2 separate regions of the Homo sapiens genome follow, and region 1 is linked to region 2. Evidence: fine-mapped expression QTL. A gene starts in region 2. The other region holds a variant in brackets. All regions are shown on one strand. Distances are between the middles of the regions. Region 1 has its middle 12 kb from the start of IFNW1. Region 2 holds the start of HACD4 (3-hydroxyacyl-CoA dehydratase 4).

The links. PIP is the estimated chance that this variant, and not a neighbour inherited with it, causes the effect.
Region 1: its variant is fine-mapped to the expression of HACD4 in CD4 T cells (BLUEPRINT, PIP 0.95).

Annotation. Positions count from the first base shown.
Region 1 is chr9:21,149,265-21,157,607 of GRCh38, reverse strand. No RefSeq gene overlaps it. Among named protein-coding and RNA genes, the nearest start is that of IFNW1, 12 kb to the right of the region's middle. The variant T/G (reference allele first, on the strand shown) is at 4,486.
Region 2 is chr9:21,027,901-21,036,243 of GRCh38, reverse strand. HACD4 (3-hydroxyacyl-CoA dehydratase 4) reads left to right here and starts at 4,604. Exons shown (of 7, transcript NM_001010915.5): 1 at 4,604-4,691; 2 at 6,846-6,949. The coding sequence starts at 4,654. LOC105375989 (a long non-coding RNA gene) reads right to left here and starts at 4,602. Exons shown (of 3, transcript XR_007061435.1): 1 at 4,244-4,602; 2 at 3,593-3,772; 3 at 2,325-2,881. RefSeq lists an enhancer at 4,265-4,825 and a silencer at 4,469-4,828.

The sequences.
Region 1 (8,343 bases), 120 kb before region 2:
TTAATTGTAACCTGTGTTTTTATATATAAAGTTGGATCTTTTTGTTTGAGTCTTATTTTTGTTTGCTTGGTTTTTGGTTTTTGTTTTGCTTTTGTCTTCCCAGTATAGCAATCTCTACTTTTTTAGTGGAAAGTTTAGACAATAAAAATTTAATCTAATTATGCATATGTTTGGGTGTATGTTTCCCATCTTGCTTATTTTATTTCTTCCTGTGGTCCTTGTTCCTTTCTTTCTTAATTTCTTGCCTTCTCCTAAATTAGTTTACCGTTTTAATAATTCCCTCATCTCCACTATCATTTTATCAGCTATTCTTCTAGTCTGTTTTGTTTTTAGTTTTTCTGTAGCGTTCATCACATATTTTAAATTATCATACACTACCTAGACATTGAGCTATTGTGCTGTATTTATTATGCTACATGTGTTTTGTATCACTGAATAAATTTTTTATTTTTATTAAACAATCTCATACATTATTTTGTGTAGCTCCAAGCTTTCATCTGATATAATTTCATCTCTGCTTGAAGAACATTTTAAAACAATATTTGTAGTATAGTTCTGGTAGTGATAATTCTCTCAATTTCCATTTCCCTGAAAAAGTCTTAATTTTACTTTCATTTTTGAAGTATATATTTGCTGGATATAACATTCCAGGTTAACAAGTTTGGTGTTATTTTTTCCTTTCAACTTTTAAACATGCCATTTAATTGGCATCTACCTTGCATGCTATTTAATGAGATGTTTGAAAGCATTCTTATCTTTCTTTATATGTAATGTGTTTTTTATTGGTAACTGCTTTTAAGATTTTTATCACTTGTTCTCAGAAATTTTATAATGATGTGTTTTGTTGTGGTTTTAAATATATATTCATGTTTATGCTGCCTGAAATTTATTGAGCTTCTTGAATTCATAAATTTTTTTGTTTTGTTTTAATCTAATTCAGAAAATCACCAGATATTATTTCTTCAAATATTTTCATTAACTCTCCTCTTCCTTCTTCTGGTACTCCAAGTATCAGAGGTTCATTTCATTCCATGCCTCCTTTTTGACAGATTCTACTGCTATGCCTTTAAAGTAACTGAGCTTTACCTCTACACTTAATTATCTCATTTAAAGTACTGCATTTTTCATCTCAAAAAGTTAATATTGATTTTTATTTATATCTTCTATTTCTTTTCTTCACTAAACCTCCAGGAGGAGAGTAGGTTAATTGTGAAACACAAGATTTTTGTTTGTTTGTTTTTTTGTTTGCATTAGGGTCACATTCCAGAGCTGTCTGTCATCCAATTTCTGTAAAATTATGCTGCATATATTTTTTTGTCAGTTATGTCATTGTTAAGGTAGTAGGATAAGCTCAAGCCTTCATAATAAATAGTTAATAAAACTTGTACTGTACAAATTCTCTTTCAAAAAATCTAATCTTATGTCTGTCCTGTATTCCATCAAGATCATATTTTCATCTATCACTTGACAGGAGACTTTGCATTGATTGTTAGTAATCACGATCACCCTAGAGCCATTTTATTGAATATCACTTTTACCATTTTAATATCAGATAAGTTCTTTCTCCTAAATTTAATTACCACTATAATATAATATTTTTTAGGAATCATGTGTTTTAATAATCTGGTTACCTAGGTTTCTTTTTATCACATTGTTTTTACTGTTATTTAAAAACATGCCTCAGCTGAGTGCAGTGGTTCACACCTATAATCTCAGCACTTTGAGAGGCCAAGGTAGGCAGATTGCTTGAGCCAGGAGTTTGAGACCAGCCTGGGCAACATGGAAAAAAACCCATCTCTACAAAAGAAAAAAAAAAATTAGCTGGGCATGGTGGCACATGTCCTTAGTAGCAGCTACTAGGGAGGCTGAAATAGGAGAATGGCTTGAGTCCAGGAGGTCGAGGCTGCAGTGAGCCATGAGTATGCCACTGCACTCCATCCAGCCTGGGGAACAGCGTGAGTCACTGTCTAAAAGAAAAAAAAAAACAAAAAAGAAATATTTATTATTCTCATTATTCTTCTCTATCACTTCCTTTCTTTCTGACTAAATTAAGACTTGATCTATAAGTAGAACAATGATTTCATAAAAACTGTTAACTCTTAGGGATTCACAAATAATCAATTTACAATGAACATAACAATCTGGGACAGTTCCTTTATAAGATGGAAAAGTGAAACTGGATCAGAATATTTCTCTTCCCCAGTATCAAAATTAAAGAGCAATATAGGGTGAAAATCAGTTTAAATATACAACAGCATCCATGAATGAAAGATGGCTAATGAGCAAGAGTGTATAATTTGGGGATTAAAATGTATCAGAATTTCAAACTATAAAATTTAAGTAATTACTTACGCAATATAGAATTCTGCATTGAATCTAGATTCAGCCAGGACACATCTGTGATCCTGGGTAATTCAATTAACCCCTCTGAGCCTCAGTTTTCACAAATGTAAAATAAGATGGAAATATTCCTGGAGTTTCTGTATCAGAAAAACTAAAACATTTTAAAGCACTTAGCAGAGTATCTTCCAGAGTGCTTAAGAGATGGTGACTATTTTCTTATTGATTCATACAGATCTATATAAGAATAGTCAACTCTCCTATTCCACTGTCTGTAAGCGGCTGCAAAATGCTGACAGTCTGAAAAAAGAGAAATGGGAGTTCTGAAGAAGACTCAAAATTAGATACCATTTGACACTGAAGATATGTGATTAATATTTAATCAAAAATTGATGGTTTGTAAGTATCTGGTGCATGGATTAGTCTCCTAAACTGAAGTTAAAAGTGTATATATATTATATATTATTATATTATGTATAACTTATTTCAATATATATTATAATAATATATATTTTAACAATATATTACAGAGTATATAATATATAGTACATAATACATATAATATATAGTAGGTAATACATAATATATACAGATATGTGTATATATGTGTGTATATAAATGCCTATACACATTTGTGTGCATACACACACACACACACACACACACACACATATATTTCATTTGCTAATTCTGTTGCCTGCCAGTTTTCTTTCCTCCCTCTTTCCCATTCTTTCATTCCCATATCATAATAGTTTCCTCCCTCTCCAGTGTAGAAATCTTCAGTGTGCCCTCTACATTCACTCCTCATTAACCTGCACTGCCCAGTCATATAGCTGCTTTCTCTTCCATTGTGGTTTCTGGCTGTCAATTTCCCCCTAAAGTGTACACAATTACCAATTGAAAGCAATAGTTGAGTGCAAATTTTTGGTTTTTCAGAAACTCACGTATGAGAGGCCTTTTTCTCTCCTGGTAAATATTTTTGGAATTAAGGGAATATTACTGTTACAATGATGTAATAGTAGTTGCAGCAAAAAGGAAACAGAGGGCAGGATCCATTTTACCCTGGGGGTTATCAAAAGATTTACAGAGGAAGAGAGCCACCTACTGATCGTGACTGACAGAAACAGCAGCCAAGTCTGGCGAGCAGCCTTCTCTTCTACACACAATCCTGTTCCCTGGCAGAAGATTTTTCTACAGAGCTAAAATGAGCTCTTTCCTGAAAAGAACTGACCTCAATTCTGAAAGTTCATTTCCTTAGCTTTGTGTCTTACAGAGGGGAAATAATGCCAGCTTCAAGCAGGACCCGTCCTCTTTTTTGGGCAATGGGCAGCTATGTGGAGACAGAAAGGGTCAGGATGTGTCCCTTGCCTCCAGCCTGCTCAGGCTTCCAGGGCCTCCTGACTCATCCCTCCCTCCACGTATTGAGCTACACTAGGAATAAGTACAGCCTGCCCATCTAGGTATAGAACTGCAAGGAAAATAAAGAAAAACCTCTTGTTTGATATTACATTAATTCTTTTTAAAAAAATACCTTGCTAATTTACAAATTCACTCCTATTAGATCATGTCACTTGACTTTGTAGTTAGGAGAAATTCTCATTGTTGTTTGAATTTTGACAGACTTGTATCCCGTCCAGTAGTAGTAAGATACAGCAAGACATAAGTGAAGGAATTTCAGAGAATACAATAATTGCCAAATGAAAGCATGTGGTCCATTGGGTAAAATTTAGGAAGCATAAGTTTGTGCAATGTTGTAATTGAAGAAGTTAATCAGGAAGTTTGTGTGAATTGCTCAGCTAGCAGGAAGGGGCTTCAATGGAGGAGGAATCTTCCAAATGTTTGCTCACATTACAAACCCAATGTTTAGATTTCTTCTTGCTAGATGGGAGAAGGGATGAGTTGGGAAACTCAAAGTTATAATATTTGACAATATTTTTATCCTTGCCTTTCTTTCTTTGTCCACTGTTTATAGGGGCTCAGTTCAGGAGCACGCAACAAAAAATATATTTCTGGATTCACCTGGGTCAGTCTCTGTCTCTCTCTCTCTCATTGTTTAACACCTTTCAAATATTATGACCCCTTCAATTCTTTGGTTATTTCTTTATGCTGCTTATTTCTCTAATGTAATTTTACTTTTTTGTTGTT[T/G]GTCATTTTATGTTCAGTGGGCAAACATTGCATGATTTCGCTCTGCATTCTCACCTTACCCTGAAAAACTCTGTAATTATATCCCAATTATATCCAGAGTTAAAAGAAAAAATTTACACAAATTACATTTTGCAGAGTTTAATTGAGCAAAAACTGATTTGCAAATGGGGCAGCTCTCAGAGCAGAACATGTTCAGAGAAACTTTGAGGCTGCCCCATGATTGGATTACATTTATCAACAGAAAAAGGAAAGTGATATACAGAAAAAAAGAAGTGAGGTATATAAAGAGCTAGATTGGTTATAGCTTGGCATTAGCCTTATTTGAACATGGTTTGAATAAGCAGCCACCTGTGATTGAATGAAGCACAAGTGTGATGATTGGCTGGGACTCAGCTATTCATTACAGAAGTATACTCCAAATTAGGCTTTCAGATTATTTAGGTACTAAGTTACATTACAATTCATTACGTAAGAACTACGTGAGTACAGAAGCTCACTCAGGCTAAACTTAGTTTAATAAACTTTTCTTTGTGGTCAGCCTCTCAATTTTGAGAAATTGACCATAACTTTGGGTGTTGTTGCCACTCTCTGTTATCATTCTAAATGGACGTCTTTGGTCTCAGTATGAAATTCACAAGTCTCAACAACACATTAGTTGAAACATTCTTTATGTTCTTGCTGATCTAGTTAAAGATCATTAAATGCTCAATGGATGGCTGCATACAAAACATTTAGGACTGGAGAGGATACAGTGCACCACGGGGAATATTATGATGACTATCAAGAGGATAATTTCAAAAACCCAAAGGGTACTCCTTAACAAAAGTCCTTGTGAAATAAACTGAACCAAATCAAACAAGTCAAAGTGCAGGCAATCTAGGCAGTTAAGCAGTATTTGAGTCTAATTGTTCATAGTCTGTCTTAAGGGTGTGATGGTGATTAAGAACTATAATTCACCATAAATAGGCCTGATTTAAAGAGGTACCCACTTTTGTTGATAGTCTGGTAACACAAGTCATAATAACCTGAAGACTCACTAGAAGAAATAGAAAGATTAGAAAACCTTGGAAAACCCAACCTTGCCATCCCCTATTTAGGCTGCCTGCAAACCAACTGTTAGTTGCTCCCATAAACACTTTATGTGGGCTGCGTGTGGTGGCTTTTATCTGTAATTCCAGCAATTTGGAAGACCAAGGTGGGAGGATTGCTTGAAACCCAGAGTTCAAGATCAGCTTGAGAAACAAAGTGAGATCATATTCCTATGTTTAAAAAATACAAAAAAAAAAGTTAGCCAGGTAGGGTGGCATGCACATCTAGTTCCAGCTACTTGGGAGGCTGAGGCATGAGGATTCCTCAAGCCCAGGAGTTTGAGGCTCCAGTGTACTATGATCATGCCACTGCACTCCAGTGTGGACAGCAGAGCAAGACCCTACCTCAAAACATATACAAATACATTATGTGTTTCTTTCTCTTACGAAATTTTCTTAATGTGTTTGGTGGCAAAGTCTAAGAAAACAGCAGTATTAGTCACCTTTCTAATCTTTCTATAGTAACAAACTCAGGGGAAAGATAGGTACAGTATTCAGTTTTTTTCAATACCAAACATAAGCCTCCAACTTGGGCAAAATGATCTAAAGCTACATGATGTTTCACTAAGTGTTTTGGTTGAAGATATATGTTCTTATCTATCCTTCAATGAGTGGCTTATACCCATGTGAAACCCTGGAAGGTTTGATTGTCTACAAAATTCAAGATTTTTCCCAAATTAAAGATTAGCTTCCAATTTTACATAATCAGTACCCAACTACCACCAAGAACAAGACCCCAGGAGTCCCACTAGGGAAACTAGCTTGTCTTTGTCTATTTGAAGGTTAGTTAATTAATTCTGGTTATTGACTATTTTGGCCTCTGATCATATGAGCTATTATGGGGACATTCAGGGAAAGTTAATCCAAAGGCAGGAGTGAGCCAAGCCAAATAGAATGATTCAAACTAGTGAGGAGGCAGAATGGAATAAGCAGATTCTCCACAGACCCAGCCTTCAGTGGTTGGAAAAAGGAAAACCTAGTTGTGTTTGAGCAAGGATCAGTTAAATTTGTTTACCCGTAAATCTTCATAGCTACTGACAAAGCCCAATGGAAATTTACTTTTTTTTGGTGGTTTATTTATAGCAATCTGTAAGGGTATATAACCACATTTGCTGAAAAAGGACTTTATTTGATTTAATCTGGTGACATTATACAAGCAATTATTTTTACCAACATGGGTAATTCCTAAGTCTCAAACATGCATTACCTGGAAGCAAAATATACTTTTGTTCAGGCAACACTTGAATATGCTTTCTATATTTGGTAATGATCAGATTATTAATTGGAAATGTTAGAGTGCTGTTTCTACTGAGTGTAAAAAATCAAGTAACAGTGATGTTCAGAGCTTCATGATTAGCTTTTCACTCTTCCTTTGAAGTGTCAGTGTGAGTCTCATTGAGAACACAGACATTGGCATTAGTAGATTTGTTTTCTGACTTTTTTTGGTAGTAGCCCACAAACCCAACAATTGCTCTGGATTTGTGTTACAGCATAAGCTTAAGTGAAAGCTTGCACTGATTATGGTCGCGTGGACGTTCCTGTACAACAAAAATGAGAAATGATTAGGACAGCAGGAAATTAGGTATGCAGTTCCAAGAATCTGAAGGAATTTTTTTGAGTTGTGAGATGTGGATGAAAGGTTTGAGGCCTTGAAGGTTTACTGCAGTGTAGGTGATAAGAAGAACTTGGTATCGTCCCTTAAAATGTAGTTCAAAGTCAATATTCCTCTGATGTCATTTCTAAAAGACACAGACTCTAGGTTCTAGGTCATGAAGGATTTGATTGTCCTAAGTTGGTGGATCACGAAAAACTTCTGAAAGACAGAGAGAGAACCAAGATGGCCAACTAGATACAGCCAGGAAGAACTTCTCTCACCAAGAAAGACCAGATCATCAAGTAGACTGGCACATTTTAAACAGATCTTTGGAAAGAAGGCATGAAGAGTGGACGGAGGGATGATGCAGACCCAGGGCTGAAAGGGGAGGGAGTTGGGAACCCTGCATGAGGTTGCCAAGCTCCAGGACTCATTCCTGACTTGGAGCAGCTTCTGGGGAAGGGGTGAGTAAAATAGGCATACAGTGAGCCATTCTTGTCACAGACCTCTGGAACCCTAGCTTCAGGAGACCCCATAACCCCCACAGACATTTGAGATGGCAGGGATAGCTACCTGGAGAGTTGAAAAAGACAGAACTCCAGCCTGCGTGGAGCCGAGGGTTTGTGTAGGAAGAGGTGCAATGGAGCACAGCTCATTCCCCAAGGCTCACATGCTCCTCTAGGTGGCTTTAGCCTTTTTTGGCTGCTGGACCTGAATGGAACAGGGCTATCTTTCCCATGGGATGGGCCAGTCCAATATGAGCACCCCACGCTCTGCCAGCCTATCCCAGGGACACTGCCTGTCTACACCCACTTTCAGCATGGCCTCTGCTGCCAAGCCGAGGCACTTGCCAGTGGGCACTGCCTTAGTTCTTTCACCAACAGACCCTACCTAATAGTCAGAGAACTGCAAGTGGGCCCCTGCTGGCAAGCACCCACCCACAGCCCTCCCCAACCAGGGCTCACTCACTGTAGACTTTCCCTGCTGCTTTTCCAGCGTGTCATACATGGGGGCCCCTGCTGCCCACCACCTCCCCTATGAAGTATTTTTGGCAGCACCCCTCATTGGAGTGCTGTTGCCAGCATACAAGGAACACCTTGGCCCCTCCAGCATATCAAATGCTTAACCTTGAGGGACCACAGAAAAAAAGCCATAGTCCTGATCCCAGTACCCCCA
Region 2 (8,343 bases):
ATAGATACATGCCTGAAAAACCTCACCACAAGCAAAACAATTAACATTTCCACCTCTCATGCTCCTTTGCAATCCCTCCCTTTTTTCATTCCTCTTCACTATCTATCCTCAGACAGCCACTTATTTTCCTTCTATCAGTGATGATTAGTTTCCACTTTCTAGAGCCTTAAATAAGTAGAATCATACAGTATCTATTCTTTTTTTTTCTGGCTTCTGACATTCAGTTTGATTATTTTGAATTTCATCCATGTTATTGCTTGTATCAGTAGTTCACTTCTTTTTACTGCTGAGTTGGATTTCATTGTACAGTTATGCCATAATTTATTTATCCATTCATCTGTTTATGGAAATTTGGGTTGTTTTCAGTTTTTGGCTATTAAAAATAAAGCTGCTTATGAGAATCCCCATTGTGGCACATCTTCACTAACACTTGTGGTGGTTAACTCTTTTTCATCTTAGCCATCTTTATCAGTGTGTAGCGATATCTCATTGTGGTTTTATTTTCATTTCCATAATTACTAATTATTTTGACCATACTTTTATGTTCTTTCTTTGTCTCTTACTTGGTTATGTGTGTTTTCAAATCTTTTGCCTATTTTGGGGGGGTTTATTGTCTTCCAATTATTGAGTTTTGAGAGTTCTGTATATATTTGCAAACAAGTTCTTTATTAGTTATGCGATTTTTAAATATTTTCTTCTACTATATAGCTTCTTTTCACTCACTTGAAAGTGTCTTTTGAAGGCCAGAAGTAGCTAAGAAATGCTTGCTTAGCTATCTAAGAGGGCTTCTTAGATGAAATACCTAAGAAATCTCTACCTAACCCAAGGTCACAAAGAGTTTTATTCTGTGTTTTCTTTGAGGGAGAGGAGTGACCTCTGAAAACTCAAGGTGCTGAAAATAAAAAAGAATTTATTTTGTAGCCAGTCTGTTACTGCCATGAAATATATTTCAAGGTTTTAGCCTCCCAGATGGTGCTCTTTGGGATGAAAACAAATTGAAGCATTTGCCCAAGGAAAACAAAATTGACATGTTCGAATAATTTTAAAATTTCTTCTAAAGATTAGAATATATTAATTCAGTTGTTATCTTGGACTCTGACTTCTTCTGTACCAGTGGATAACTGAAAGTTGAATATACATACTTCAGTAATGTAACTATCACTGAATGTTTTGTTTTGGGTTAAAATTTTGGGAATAGAAAACTCATACTAGATTTAATTCATTCATCCAACATATTTATGGATACTTACTATGCCAAGCACTGTACTAGGGGCTTTTATCCATTTTCATCTATAAATTTTATTATTTGATCTTTCTAATAACTGTGTGCTTTTGGCAAAAGAAACTTCATTTTTAAAGGTTAAAAGTTGTCAAATTCTCACTGTTAGTGAGAGAGAAGCCTCTGAGAATCTATAATCTAGTTAAATAGTCAAGTACCTTGACAACAACAATACCCTAAGATAAATACCAACATAGACATACGTTAGCCTATGTGACTCCCAGAGGGGATCTTTGGGAAGGCTTTTAAAGAATGAATAGAATTTTGACAGGTAAGTACTGGGCTGTGATAAGGGGAGGAGGTAGAATAGAAAAAGTAGACGGGAAATTTTTCACAGAGGCACATTGGCCAGAGAATGCCTGGTGTGGTCATGGAACAGCAGGTTGCTGTGATTTTTGGTAAGGGGATAGGATGGTAGGAGATGTCAGCATGTGACAGGTTTAGGGGCAAGAAGAGATATACTGTAGCAGGCAACGGGGAGTCAGCAAAAGATTTAGACCAGGAGAATGGCTACATCAGAACTGTGTTTTAAGAAATATTTTTGCCATCCTTAAATAATCTATGGCAGTCTGGGTAGAAGGAGGAAAGAGATTGGAGGCAGGGAGGCTGGGGGAGGCCATCTTGATAATGCTGGCAGGACGTGGGCAGGACTGGGAACTGACCAGGGGAAAGGGAGAATTTCACTTTTCATACAAAATGTTCTCTCCTAAGCTCTTTTTGTACTCTTTCCTTGGGAAATAACGTAGAATCAGCTAACTGCTTGATTTGAAAGGATTTTTTATTTTTCGACTGATTGGCTTGTTCTTTTTTGGCAACTAAAAAGGGCCTCTTTTTGTGCAGCAGAAAGATATAACCCAAGACGCTCCAGAAAGTCAACTGAGTTATGATGTAAAGAATGGATGTGAGGGAGGCCAATTACTCCTCACCCAGGTACTGGAAAATAAGGAATGGACAAAGAACACTACTGATTAGTAGGAGATCTGGAAAGGATGGGATCAATCGAATTTGATTGGATGGGGTGCTTAATGATGACTCCCCAATTTAAAATCAAGTGGCTAGAAAAATGGTGGTCTTTCTGTGGGAAATAATGATTTAGGAAGAGAGATAGTATGCTTATTTTAAATAGGTTGAATTGGAAGACGTTCCAAAGATAGTCCAAACAATAGGACTTTCATGAGGAAATATCCAAAAGCTGCTCAAAGGCCAGAGATAGTATTCATAAAAGAAGAAAGGGCTGAAAATAATAGTCAAAAGTTGTCCACATGGAGATAAAGCCATGTGTGGTTGTCTATGCTGAGGGATAACATGGTGACAAATGGATGGTGACTAAGGGCAGACTTTTGAGGAAATACAGCAGGAGAAGAAGACCCATCCAGAGAGACAGAAGGGACATAAGGCAAGAGACGTAGAATATGTAGAACTTCAGGGGTAAATGGCAGACAGACAGAACTGGTAAAATGCAGCAGACCTGTCAATGAGGATGTGGATGCAGGGGCTGTGTTTGGTGACAAAGGATCAATTCTTCTGGGCAGGCTTTCCACCTTCTCCCTCCTGCCCCACTGCAGGCCATCTGGGACTTTACTTTCTCTCTTGCTGCTTAACCTGATCAGAGATAGCATTGATAATGGGTTAGCCACCAGTTTACCCTTTAGATCAAATGTTCTGTAAAAGCAAGGACCGTGGGGCATCATCCTGCAAGGTGATACAGGATAGGGATTCGGCGAAAAATTAACATGCTCGCGGACGGAGCAGTGTCAGGAGAGTCAAACTGTAAGGTATTATGGAACAGGAAGATGGTAGGAAATGAAAGAAGCACCTGATCAGAGAAGGCAGGCAGGGAGTTATTAGAAGATTCCATTGAGAGAGAAACAGAAAGAATACAATGTTTAATTATATGCTAAGAGAGAGTTGTCTATGTCCCTAAAGTGCAGTGAAAGCCAATGGAAAGGAGGGGATGACGATGCAAGAAGAGGCGATGGTTAACTACTGATGCAGTGAGTCTGAGAAGGGACTGGTAAACACAAAGTTGGGGTTAACCTCCGACTGAGGGCAGGGTATGAGAGAAGGTGCAGAGAAATGTAGAGGTGAGAGGTAGGCATAGTGAATGGAATGGACTATGAAAAAAGGAAGCCACGGCCTAATGGGAAACAAACAAGAAATCCCACCAACCTTGAAGTTCTGATACTGCCATTTTATCAATTGTGTGACCTGTGCCAAGTGACTTAACATTTTTTTAATGCCTCAACTTCCCTTTTGGTAAAAATGGGGGCGCTAACTTCCAACTCCAAAACCAGGTGCCATTGTCCCACTTACTTGCAAGTGCCTTCTTAGATGTTTCTGTTTTTGTTTTAACGTTTCCCTTTCTGGGCAGAGGAGCTTGAAGATGGGCTGGATCTTATTAGCAAAGCAGGAGGGTGGGTCATCTGTGTACGGAGACAGTGATGTCATAAGCCTGAGAGATCACGAAGGGGTTGTAGCAGTGCTGGGCATAGGCTAGAGAAATTAACACAACGTGAATAAAGATTTGCAGGCACCAGTGAGAACCCAAGGGAGATTAGAGAGCAGGGAGGCCTGATAGAAGAGGAATCAGGCCCCTAGCTGAAAAAGTGTTGGGGAGGTGTGCTACAAACTTCGTTTTATTTTTATTTATTTTTTGAGACAGGATCTCGCTCTGTTACCCAGGCTGGAGTGTAGCCGCGTGATCTTGGCTCATTGCAGCCTCGACCTCCCAGGCTCAAGCGATCCTCCCACCTCAGCCTCTGGAGTAGCTGGGACCACAGGCCCGCGTCACCATGCCCGACTAATTTTTGTACATTTAGTAGAGACGCGTTTTCGCTATGTTGCCCAGGCTGGTCTCGAACTCCTGGGCTCAAAAGATCCTCCCGCCTCGGCCTCCCAAAGTGCTGGGATTATAGGCATTAGCCACTGCGCCCGGCACAAGCTTCGTGTCTGAACCTGGCTCACCGGTGGGCATTGAGCAGAGCCCACCCTGGAATCCACTCATCTCGGGAGGTTTGGGGATGGGCTTCAGCGAGTTCGGAGGCCCCGGAAATCGCCCAGATGCATTAATTTCCAGAAGGCTTGCAAGGGGGTCTCAACACAAAGATTAGGAAGCTGTAACCAGAGTTTGGTAACCCCACCGGGAACGCGAGCCGCCTCCCAGCCTTGCGCCCTGACGCGCTCTAGCAGTGCTGCAGAAACTTCGAGAACTTCGTTTTCATCTCTTCCCCAACGCACGACCTCGGGCTTTTTCTTTTTGTAAACTGCTGAGTGTGGAGAGGCCCCGCCCTTCCGCGCCCAGCCGCGGGGCCGCCCCTGCCTCCTCCCCGGTACTCCTTCCTGGACCGCGCTGGAAGCCCTGGCGGCGGCGGCCCATGGGGCCCTTGGCGCTGCCCGCCTGGCTGCAGCCCAGGTAGGGCGCTCGGCCGAATCCCGAGGGGAGGGGGCGCGGGTGGAGGGCCTGGAGGCGGGAGCTCCCCTCTGCGGCGGGCGGGCGGGCGGCACCCCCCGCCCGCCAGCAAGGCGCAGCGCTACCGTGCCCAGGCACCCCTTGGAGCTCATGCAGGTATTTGCTAACTTACCCCTCTTGACCACCCTAGGAAGCAGGCTCTGTTATTTTCTCCATTTTACAGTTGAATGGGAAGGACAGGCTGCATGGCTACCCCTGCCCTTGTGAGCCCTCTGCCAGTACTTCCCTCCCCCCAGGAGCCTTCTCTTGACTTTCTCAGACGCAGAGTTGCGGGGTGATTTTTAGATGTAACAGCCGTGGAAACACCTATCACACGTATAGATTTCAGGGCCTAGTTCCGGCGGGGAACAGATTCAGTCATATAGCGGTAGGGCCTGGGGGTGTATATGTTTAACCCACAAGCCAGGTAATTCTGATACAAGCTGAAGGAGGATTTCCTCTTCCCAAACCCTTTAGCAGTTCCTGCCTTTATAGGGGAGGATGTCCCCAAATAAAAATCATTCTGCCTCCCAGCTTATTTTCCTTGTTTCTAGGAGGTTTCACATCTTCAAGGAGGAGTAAATCTTGACCACACTGGCAGGGCCACTCCCGTCACTCTTCTGAACTCCCAGGGAACATTTCAAACAGTGCTTTTCCTAACTCCCTCAAACCATCTATCTGTCAATCTTCTCTTAGTCATCTCCCCAGCAACTCACAACACATTGTTAAACCCAGCTTGACTTCCCTCTTCTGGTATGAGCAACTAAACTGCTTTCGATATGTATCTGATGAAGGAAACTATCTACCCTTGCAAAATGTTAATAGGCAGTGGCAAGATGTTAATACTAACCTCAATCACATAATGTGTTCAAAAGTCAGGTGTGTCCAATTACTGAATTACCCAACATTTGGATTACTCCCATCCCTACCCCCCTTCAGAACTAAAACACTGTGTCTCAAGTTCTGCACTTAGCAAGCTGAGCTACTGGAACACATAGTGACATGTCAACCACTCTGCACACATGGATTTTTTGTTGTTGTTGTTGTTTTGTTTTTTATTTTTTATTTATTTTTGAGAACAGAGTTTTGATCTGTCGCCCAGGCTGGAGTGCAGTGGCGCTGTCTCGGTTCACTGCAGCCTCTACCTCCCAGGTTCAAGTGATTGTCCTGCCTCAGCCTCCTGAGCAGCTAGGTAGCTGGGATTACAGGCATACGTTACCACATCCGGCTTTTTTTTTTTTTTTTTTGTAAGTTGCCATGTTGGCCAGGCTGGTCTTGAACTTCTGGCCTCAAGTGATCCAACCCGCCTTGGCCTCCCAAAGTGCTGGGATTACATGCCTGAGCCACCGCGCCCAGCCTGTTTTGTTTTTTTAAAGAATATTCAAAGCCACCTTCGCAGTGGTTTCTTTTATTCCTTGGTGAGCAGCAAGGTTAGAACTTTATCAAAGATGAAAGCAGATTTTGAAAAAGCACTATATTTGGTTTTAAGCAAACTCACTATACAGATGGTCCATGACTCACAATTTTTTAAACTTTGTGATGGTGTGAAAATGATATGTATTCATTAGAAACCGTACTTCAAATTTTGGATTTTAATCTTTCCCCAGGCTAGCGATGTGCAGGTATGATATCCTTTCATGATGCTGGGCCGCGGCATCAGGCCGCAGCTCCCAGTCGGCCGCATGATCAGGAAGGTAAACAACCGGTACTCCACAGTGCACTGTGTTGCCAGATGATTCCACCCAACTGTAAGCTAATGTAGGTGTTCTGAGCAAGTTTAAGGTAGACTAGGCTAAGCTGTGATGTTCTGTAGATCAGTTGTATTACATGCATTTTCAACTTATGATATTTTCAGTTTATGATATTTTCAGCTGATGGGGTGTACCAGGACGTAACTTCATCATAAGTGAAGAAGCATCTGTATTTACTTTAGCGGGTAGTGTAGGTTATGGCTCCCTTCAAAATCTGATATGTACTTGGGGGTAACCAGATAAAAGACTGATATGAAACAGTTTTCTTTTGCTTTCTCAGGTTGGCCAGTACATTAAAGGGCATGTGTACAGTGATGAAAGGATGATTATAAAAGAAGTGTTTAATGGTATTTTCCTGTATTTATAGGTATAGGAAGAATGCGTATCTTTTCATCTATTACTTAATCCAGTTCTGTGGCCACTCTTGGATATTTACAAATATGACAGTCAGATTCTTTTCATTTGGAAAAGGTAAAACTCCGAAACAGTTTTTTTATTTTTAACTTTTAATCCTTGTTTTCACCTCATCCTGCTTATATTAAATTTCTACACACCTCAACCTTCTAATATCCTTCTCTAAAATTTGTATTTTTTAGCAACCATGTTTATTGCAAAACCTTCTTGGGGAAGGGGGAAGGTGGGATAAGTAAGGGAAAGGGATTTGGCTTCCCCCTGAGTTGGCAGTTTGCCTCAAAAAAGAGATGGATGGCACTGAGGTGGTATCATTTCATTGTTCCTTTTCCATTCTGTACCAAACCTTAGCAGATTTCTAGTGTTTTGAGGAAATCTCAGCATAACATTTTATGCAGAGAAATCAGGAATGAATCAAATTCTTCCAGTGTTTGTATTATTCCCCAGGTTTGAGGTAACTGGAGACTACTAGTAAGTGAAATACAAATTTTATATTCCCCAAGCCTCTATTTGGTCCCTTTAAGAAGTAATATGTAAATGACACACTTTGTAGAGGGCTAACCACTTATATAGGAGTCAGCATTAATGGTTTAAGTCATAAACTTCCTCTAGTTTCCTGAAAAGTAAAGTCACTGTTGGGTGACTAAATGACTATCAAAATAACATTCTCTTCATGTTCCATCCGCACGTGGGTAAGTGTCCTCACAGTTTACAACTGTTGAGTGACTTGACAATCTAAGCAACTGCTGGCTTCAGCTAAAAACAAATGTTTAGAATGTAGCTGGGAAAAGTCATGCTGTGCTCATCATTTCAGACGTGTGTATCATAAGGAAGTTATTCTACTTGCAGGGTCCCATAAGCTATTTTATGTTGCTTTTTCTTACTGAAAATCTACAGATATAGTCTCGCCTTTGTTAAGGACCTCCAAAGATATAACCTAAAGCTTGAGTTTCAACTACAAATGTTGAGAGTTTTCAAGCACAGGAAAACACAGGTGATGGGAAAACTTCTTTTATATTTTTATTAAAAAGCCATCACTTCTAGCCCTTTGAGGTTTGCTGAGGCAGTGCAGGCATATTACATGTCATTGGCAACACAAGCCATGGACTGGCTTATGCTGTCTCACCTTTCCAGTGAGAAAAGTTGCCTTAGTCATCAAGTATTTCTTTTTCTTTTCTTTCTTTTTTTTTCTTTTCTTTTTTCTTTTTTTTTTTTTTTTGAGATGGAGTTTCCCTCTTGTCGCCCAGGCTGGAGTGCAATGGTACGATGTCACCTCACTGCAACCTCTGTCTCCCAGGTTCAAGTGATTCTCCTGCCTCAGTTCCCTGAGTAGCTGGGATTACAGGTGCCCGCCACCATGCCTGGCTAATTTTTGTATTTTCAGTAGACACGGGGTTTCACCACATTGGCCAGGCTGGTATTGAACTCCTGACCAAAGGTGATCCGCCTGCCTC